Linked DNA regions of Homo sapiens. The protein of the gene in region 2 purifies or fractionates together with the protein of the main gene of each other region. This does not show direct contact. Each region holds a gene or a part of one and is shown on either strand. Other genes may lie near its edges.

Region 1 (3,500 bases), on a different chromosome or scaffold from region 2:
TGACCCCAGCGCAAAGTACCATGGCATCCTCCAGGCCTCTAGGCAGATTCTGCAGGAGGAGGGTCCGACAGCTTTCTGGAAAGGACACGTCCCAGCTCAGATTCTCTCCATAGGCTATGGAGCTGTCCAAGTAGGTGGCAAGGGACCTGGCCAGACCTCTGGGGTCACGTTGCTCAGTGGAGGAGCAGAGGGAGGGTGAGGCAAGCAGGAATGCCGCGCAGGGCAGGACGGAAGAGGCAGGCCCCACGCTTCCCACCTGCCTCACCCGGGAGCCTTCCTGACCAGCAGTACCGTAGGCATTGCCCTCCGCCATGTCCCTGCGTCTATCCTGTGTGACTTAGGTGTTGCATCTTGGAGACCGATTTGATGTCATGCCTTCTGTGAGGCTTGGCGAAGGACAGCACTAATGCATTTCAGTTTTTGAAATACCACCTTCACATATGTGGTTCATCTGAACTTCACCACACCGTCATGAGGAGGGCAGGGTAGCTGTCATGTGGATCTCAGGGAGGAGAAGTCAGCTGTCCGAGGCCACACAGCCTGCACATGGCGGGGCTAGGGTTAGAACTCATGCTTCGTTCAGTGGAGCACTAGTATAGTCATAGTGCACAGCATGTGATTTTATGCAGTAGATGTGTTTAAGAACCAGCCCTGTACAGTGCAAACCATGGGCCAGGCCCCTGTTGGAAGCACTTCACATACACTCTGTCACAGCAGTCCTTAAGGTAGGGGCTGTTGTCCCTCCCATGTCATGCATGAGAAGACTGAGGTGGACAGAGCTTACATAATTAACCCAACCAAAGCCACTGGCTAGAAAATGGCAGAGCCACGACCCCCACCTAGGCAGCTAGTGCCAGAGATGTCCCTTCCTACTCTTCCTGTGACATCACAGTGACCGCCCAAGTCAGGTGCTTACTGGCTGGGCATGCCCTGCGATCCTGTCTCTGCACTTGTCTGCAAACAGATATTGCAGCATGACGAATAAATACAGCAACAGGATAGTCTCAAGAAGCCAGGCGTGGGCTGGACTCAGTGGCTCACACCTGTAATCCCAGCATCTGAGCCCGGGAGGCGGAGGCTGCAGTGAGCCACGATCATGCCACTGCACTTCAGCCTGGGCAACACAGCCAGACCCTGTCTCAAAAAAAGAAAAGAAGCCAGGCCATCTTCAGTTGGCTGAAGGAAGATCTGAGCATAGCCCTGGTATAGTGGCTCACACCTGTAATCCCATCACTTTGGGAGGCTGAGGTGGGAGGATGGCTTGAGCTCAGGAGTTTGAGACCAGCCTGGGCAACATTAGGGAGACCTCCTCTCTACTAAAAATAAAAAATAAATTAGCCAGATATGGTGGTACACACCTGTCGTCCCAGCTATTCCAGAGGCAGGAGAATAATTTGAGCTAGAGAAGTCAAGGCTGCTGTGAACTGTGATCGAGCCACTGCACTCCAGCCTGGGCAACTGAGCACGACCTTGCCTCAAAAAGCAAAACAGGGCCAAGCTCGGTGGCTCATGTGTGTAATCTCAGCCCTTTGGGAGCCCAAGGCGGGCAGATTGCTTGAGCTCAGGAGTTTGAGACCAGCCTTGGCAACATAGTGAAACCCTGGTTCTACAAAAAATACCAAAATTAGCTGGACATGGTGGCATGCGCCTGTAATCCCAGCTACTTGAGGAGCTGAGGTGAGAGGATCACTGGAGCCCAGGAGGTTGAGGCTGCAGTGAGCCGTGTTTGTGCCACTGTACTCCAGCCTGGGTGACAGAGAGACACTCTTGTCCCTAAAAAAAAAAAAAAAAAAAAAAAAAGAAAGATCTGAATGTAAGGGGGTCACCCTGTGGAACATGCTCCCAAAAGAATCTGCCCCAGAAAAGAATGATTCTCGAACAGTGCCGCCACCAGGTGCCGCCGCCAGCTGCACTGAAGGGGTCCCTGCAGGAATCAGAGCATGGCCGTCTTCCCCAGTTCTCAGAAAACTAAGTTAGCCAGTGACATTTTCTGATATACATTGTTCTCATGTATCTTTTTTATTTTTTCTTGAGACAGAGTCTCACTCTGTTGCCCAGGCTGGAGTGCAGTGGCGCAATCTCAGCTCACTGCAACCTCCGCCTCCTGGGTTCAGGCGATTCTTCTGCCTCAGCCTCCCAAGTAGCTGGGGTTACAGGCCCACGCCACCATGCCTGGCTAATTTTTGTATTTTTAGTAGAGACAGGGTTCCACCATATTGGCCAGGCTGGTCTCCAACTCCTGACCTCATGATCTGCCCACCTCGGCCTTCCAAAGTGCTGGGATTACAGGCGTGGGCCACTGCACCCAGTCTTTTTTTTGAGACCGAGTCTTGCTCTGTCGCCCGGGCTGGAGAGCGCAGTGGCATGATCTTGGCTCAGTGCAGCTCTGCCTCCCGGGTTCAAGTGATTCTCCTGCCTCAGCCCCCCAAGTACCTGGGACTACAGGTGCCCGCCACCATGCCTGACTAATTTTTGTATTTTTAGTAAAGACAGGGTTTCACTATGTTGACCCGGCTGGTCTCGAACTTGTGACCTCGTGATCTGCCCGCCTCGGCCCCCCAGAGTGCTGGGATTACAAGTGTGAGCCACTGCACCTGGCCCCCATATATCTTCTTAACCCTTTGAGTGTCTGACTCTACTCAAGTATCAAATGGCATCCGAGTTTTGCGTAGAATGTTGTATTTATCATATGCTGTCACTGCTCAAGAAGAACATTTCCTGACCTTTTCCTCGCCCCTCCACCTGGGCCCCAGCCGGGTCACGGGTGATGTATTTGGGGAGTATTTGGTCCTCACCCTCATCCTTTGGGCTGTCGGTGACTTCTTCACTTACTCTTGCAGTTCTTGTCATTTGAAATGCTGACGGAGCTGGTCCACAGAGGCAGCGTGTATGACGCCCGGGAATTCTCAGTGCACTTTGTATGTGGTGGCCTGGCTGCCTGTATGGCCACCCTCACTGTGCACCCCGTGGATGTTCTGCGCACCCGCTTTGCAGCTCAGGGTGAGCCCAAGGTGAGTGGCCAGGAGCCAGACCGGGGAAGCCCAAATAAGGAAGGTGTTGTCACAGGGGTAGCATTCTTTATTTTTTATTTATTTATTTATTTATTTTTGTTTTGTTCTGTTTTGTTTTGTTTGAGACAGAATCTCGCTCTGTCATGCAGGCTGGAGTGCAGTGGTGCGATCTTGGCTTACTGCAAGCTCCACCTCCCGAGTTCAAGCGATTCTCCTGCCTCAGCCTCCCGAGTAGCTGGGATTACAGGCACCCGCCACCACGCCTGGCTAATTTTTTTTGTATTTTTAGTAGAGACGGGGTTTCACCATGTTAGCCAGGATGGTCTCGATCTCCTGACCTCACGATCCGCCCGCCTCGGCCTCCCAAAGTGCTAGGATTACAGGCATGAGCCACTGCGCCCGGCCTATTTTTTATTTATTTATTTATTTATTTTGAGACAGAGTCTCGCTCTGTTGCCAGGCTGGAGTGCAGTGGTGCGATCTATTTTT
Region 2 (3,256 bases):
CACTTGCTAAGCAGAAGTGTTGATTCTTTGTACTTCCTTTGGGAGCAGGACCCCTGAGTTTAGAGGGCCCTAAACAAACGGTGACTTCTGTTCCCGTCTGTTCCTATCTGCTGAGAGCGGCAGCTCCACCCTGTTCAGCCGCCCGGCCTCACACAAGCAGAGCCCCGGCCCTGGCATGCTAGGTAGGGCCCACACAGGGAGGGGTTTCTTGCTGAGCCGTCAGAACCTGGTGCACGCGCTAGTCCCCACCATCCCTGCCGACTCTCTCAGCCCACCTAAGACCCTTGTTTAGAATGCGGACTCCAGCGCCCTATTCACCTGAGGCCCAGGGCCCTACTTTCATACAAACTGCAGATGGACACAGCCTGGCCTCAGCCCAGGCTTTCTTGGGAGGAAGCGAAGGGGAGCGGGTGTGGACCAAGACACTTCACAGATTCACTGTCAGGGCCAGAAATGACTCTGCCGCCCCCAAGAAGGAACTGAGCCGAGGTGGCCAGGTGTTCCGGCATTGGTCCTTTATTGAACATCCTCCCAAAGCTGGGGCTAGGGTTCACCCCCCACGGTACCCAACGAGAAGCGGCCTTCAGAAGCATCTTCTCTGCACCACGGAGGTCCCAAACTCCTTGAAGTCTGCGGCGGTGACCCACATCTGCTTGAAGCTACTCAGAGAGGTGACGATGGAGGCTCCAATCCAGGTGGAGAACCACCGGTCGGGGGGAGCCGTGATCTTGATGGGGGTGTCCTTGGAGGCCAGCTGCTCCAGCTCCTTGAGAAGCCGGTCATCCAGCCCGTGGAACAGGGTAGTGCCCCCCGACAGCACAATCTCCCCAAAGAGGATCTTCTGGATGTCGGTATCACACTTGGTGATGCTGCTGGAGACCATATTCGAGAGCCCGGGGCTCTGGCTGCCCAGCTGCTGGGGCACGAACAGGGCCTCGGGCGCCTGGTGCAGCGGGTCCCCGAGGCTGATGATGTTCCCGTCGGGCAGCTTGTACTCCCTCAGGACCTCCTCCGGCCTCCGGGAAAGCTCCTTCTCGGGCTCCAAGGCCACGTAGCACAGCTTCTTTTTGATGTCGTCCACGAGACCCTTGTCCAGCTGGCAGGGGAAGGTGTGGCCGCTGGCCAGGAGCAGCTGCATGAGGAGCTCCGTGATGTCCCTGCCCGCCACGTGGAGCTTGGTGACTGCGTGGGGCAGGGAGTAACCCTCAAAGATGGGGACAGTGCAGGTGACCGCATCCCCGCTGTCCACCACCAGGCCCGTGACACAGGCAGAGGCGTAGAGAGCCAGCACCGCCTGGTCCGACAGGTAGAAAGCGGGCACGCCGAAGTTCTCGAACATGACTTCTGCCATCTTCTCACGGTTCTCCCTGGGGTTCAGGGAGGGCTCCGTTGCAAGCAGGGGCTGGTCGCTGGGTTTCACGCCTAGCTCCCACTCAAAGAGGTGCTTCCAGAGTCTCTCCACGTCATCCCACCCTGTGATCAGGCCACGCTCGAAAGGGGAGTGCAGCTGCAGGGCCTCCTGCTTGTACAGGGCCTCCTCCCCCACAAAGTACTTCTTCTGGTTGGCCTCTGCTGAGGGAGCCTGGAATTTCAGGTGCCCCACGATGGAGCTGACCATGTGCCGGGGTCCAAACTCCCCAGACAGGCCCGCTTTGCAGAACCCCGAGCCATTGTCAAAAATCACAGCCGGGGAGTCTAAAGCGTGCGGATTAAACATGCCCGCAGCCTTCCCTTCTCAGCCTCATCAAAATAAAGACCAGCCCTCCAGGGCCGCTTTGTGATGCAATAGGGGATCCCACAGCTCTTCCCACAGCTCTCGGGGTGTCTCAAGGCAGGGCTAGCACCGTGCCCGGGAGCCCTGCATCCTCAGCCGCAGGTCTGCTCTCCCTCCAGGTGGCCTGGGCCTGCTGAGGCCTCTTCCAGGGGGCCAGGGGGTTGTCTCCTAGGTAACAATCTAGCCAAGGCAACGATTGTCCTGAGCCTCAGAGGCCCTGGGGGTGGGGCTCTGAGTCCCCCATCCCCCACAGGGTGAGGTGAGAGAGAGAGAGAGAGACAAGTGCATCCTAGGGCGGTGCTGGACAAGCCTGTGGGCTGAGGCAGAGACTTAGCTTTAGAGTGGAGAGAAGCAGCCCAGCCTGCGTGCACCCTAGAAAACCAGCTTCTCTGGCCCCTGAGCTGCAACTTCTGGGGTGACAACACTTCCCTTTGCTAAGGGGGAAAACCAAGCACCAGGTCGGAGGGGTGTTGTAAGCAGTTCTGTCCCAGCAGGCACTTAGAATGTGCTTTTGAATAGTGATTCCCCCAGGAAGCTCTCAGGGATTTCTCCTCCCTCCATCCCATTAGTCCTGGCTGTCTGTCCCACTGGGTAGACCCTATTCAAAGCCCTCTGGGCTGCTGGCCCTTTGTCCAGGAATACATCTCTGCTCTGGCTTGAGGCCAGCACCCCTCATTCCTCTCTGCAGACTCTGAAGTGCCAGCACACAACAAAGTCCAGCAGCCATAGAGTTGGGAACCCAACAGCCCTGAAGATATGGCCTGCTGGTTTCACATGGGTAGCCTGGATTGCAGCCTGTGACACCTCTCTGTGTCTATGAGCTGCCACACAGTCAGGCCACAACCACAGAGCAATGCTCAGAGGTGACCAGGCCATTAAAGGTCAAGGCCTGAGCATGACCAGGAAGGAGGCACCGGGCCAGGCCAAGGGCACCCACAACAGTGCACGCCCGGCACTCAGACCCCCGCTTTGTCTTCCGCTTGGGGAGAAAGTGGGAGGGGATCCAACCTGGGAACCAGCTTCACTTTTTTCCTAAGGAGGTTGGAGGTGGCCTTGGAGAATGTGAGGTTTATTCTACCTCTCCTGTCATATCCACAATCATGCTCCAGCCCAGCTTGGCCCCCCAGAGTTCTCCCAGAGGACGCCTCCCGGGGTCACTCCCTTCCTGGAGCCCCTCAGCTCCTGCTGGTGGCCCCCTCTGTGTGTCCTGCCTGCCCTGCTGACCCACCAGCAGGCATTAATCCGATGGTGGTGTAGACACATGTTGTAGATGGGCAGTCTAGACACGTGGTACAGACATGTGGTGTAGACACGAGGTACAGACGCATATGGATGTGCCGTGTAGATGCATGGGATAGATGGGTGGTGTAGACACGCGCGGTACACTCGTTGTTGATGTGTGGTGTAGATGTGTCTTGTTGACACGTGGTTTTGTGGGCCCCACTAATCCCTGGGTGGTAGTCAACAAAAACTTGATTATTG

The links. Proteins that work in one complex are often made in the same cells at the same time.
Region 1: the proteins of ACTRT2 (region 2) and SLC25A19 purify together in Homo sapiens (affinity purification with mass spectrometry; one large-scale study listed by BioGRID and IntAct). This does not show direct contact.

The regions. Positions count from the first base shown.
Region 1 is NC_000017.11:75,282,934-75,286,433, reverse strand, and holds part of SLC25A19 (mitochondrial thiamine pyrophosphate carrier), read left to right. Parts: coding exon 1-130; intron 131-2,840; coding exon 2,841-3,011; intron 3,012-3,500. UniProt on the Homo sapiens protein: Mitochondrial transporter mediating uptake of thiamine diphosphate into mitochondria. It is not clear if the antiporter activity is affected by the membrane potential or by the proton electrochemical gradient.
Region 2 is NC_000001.11:3,020,148-3,023,403, reverse strand, and holds ACTRT2 (actin-related protein T2), read right to left. Parts: upstream 1,938-3,256; 5' UTR 1,718-1,937; coding exon 584-1,717; 3' UTR 501-583; downstream 1-500.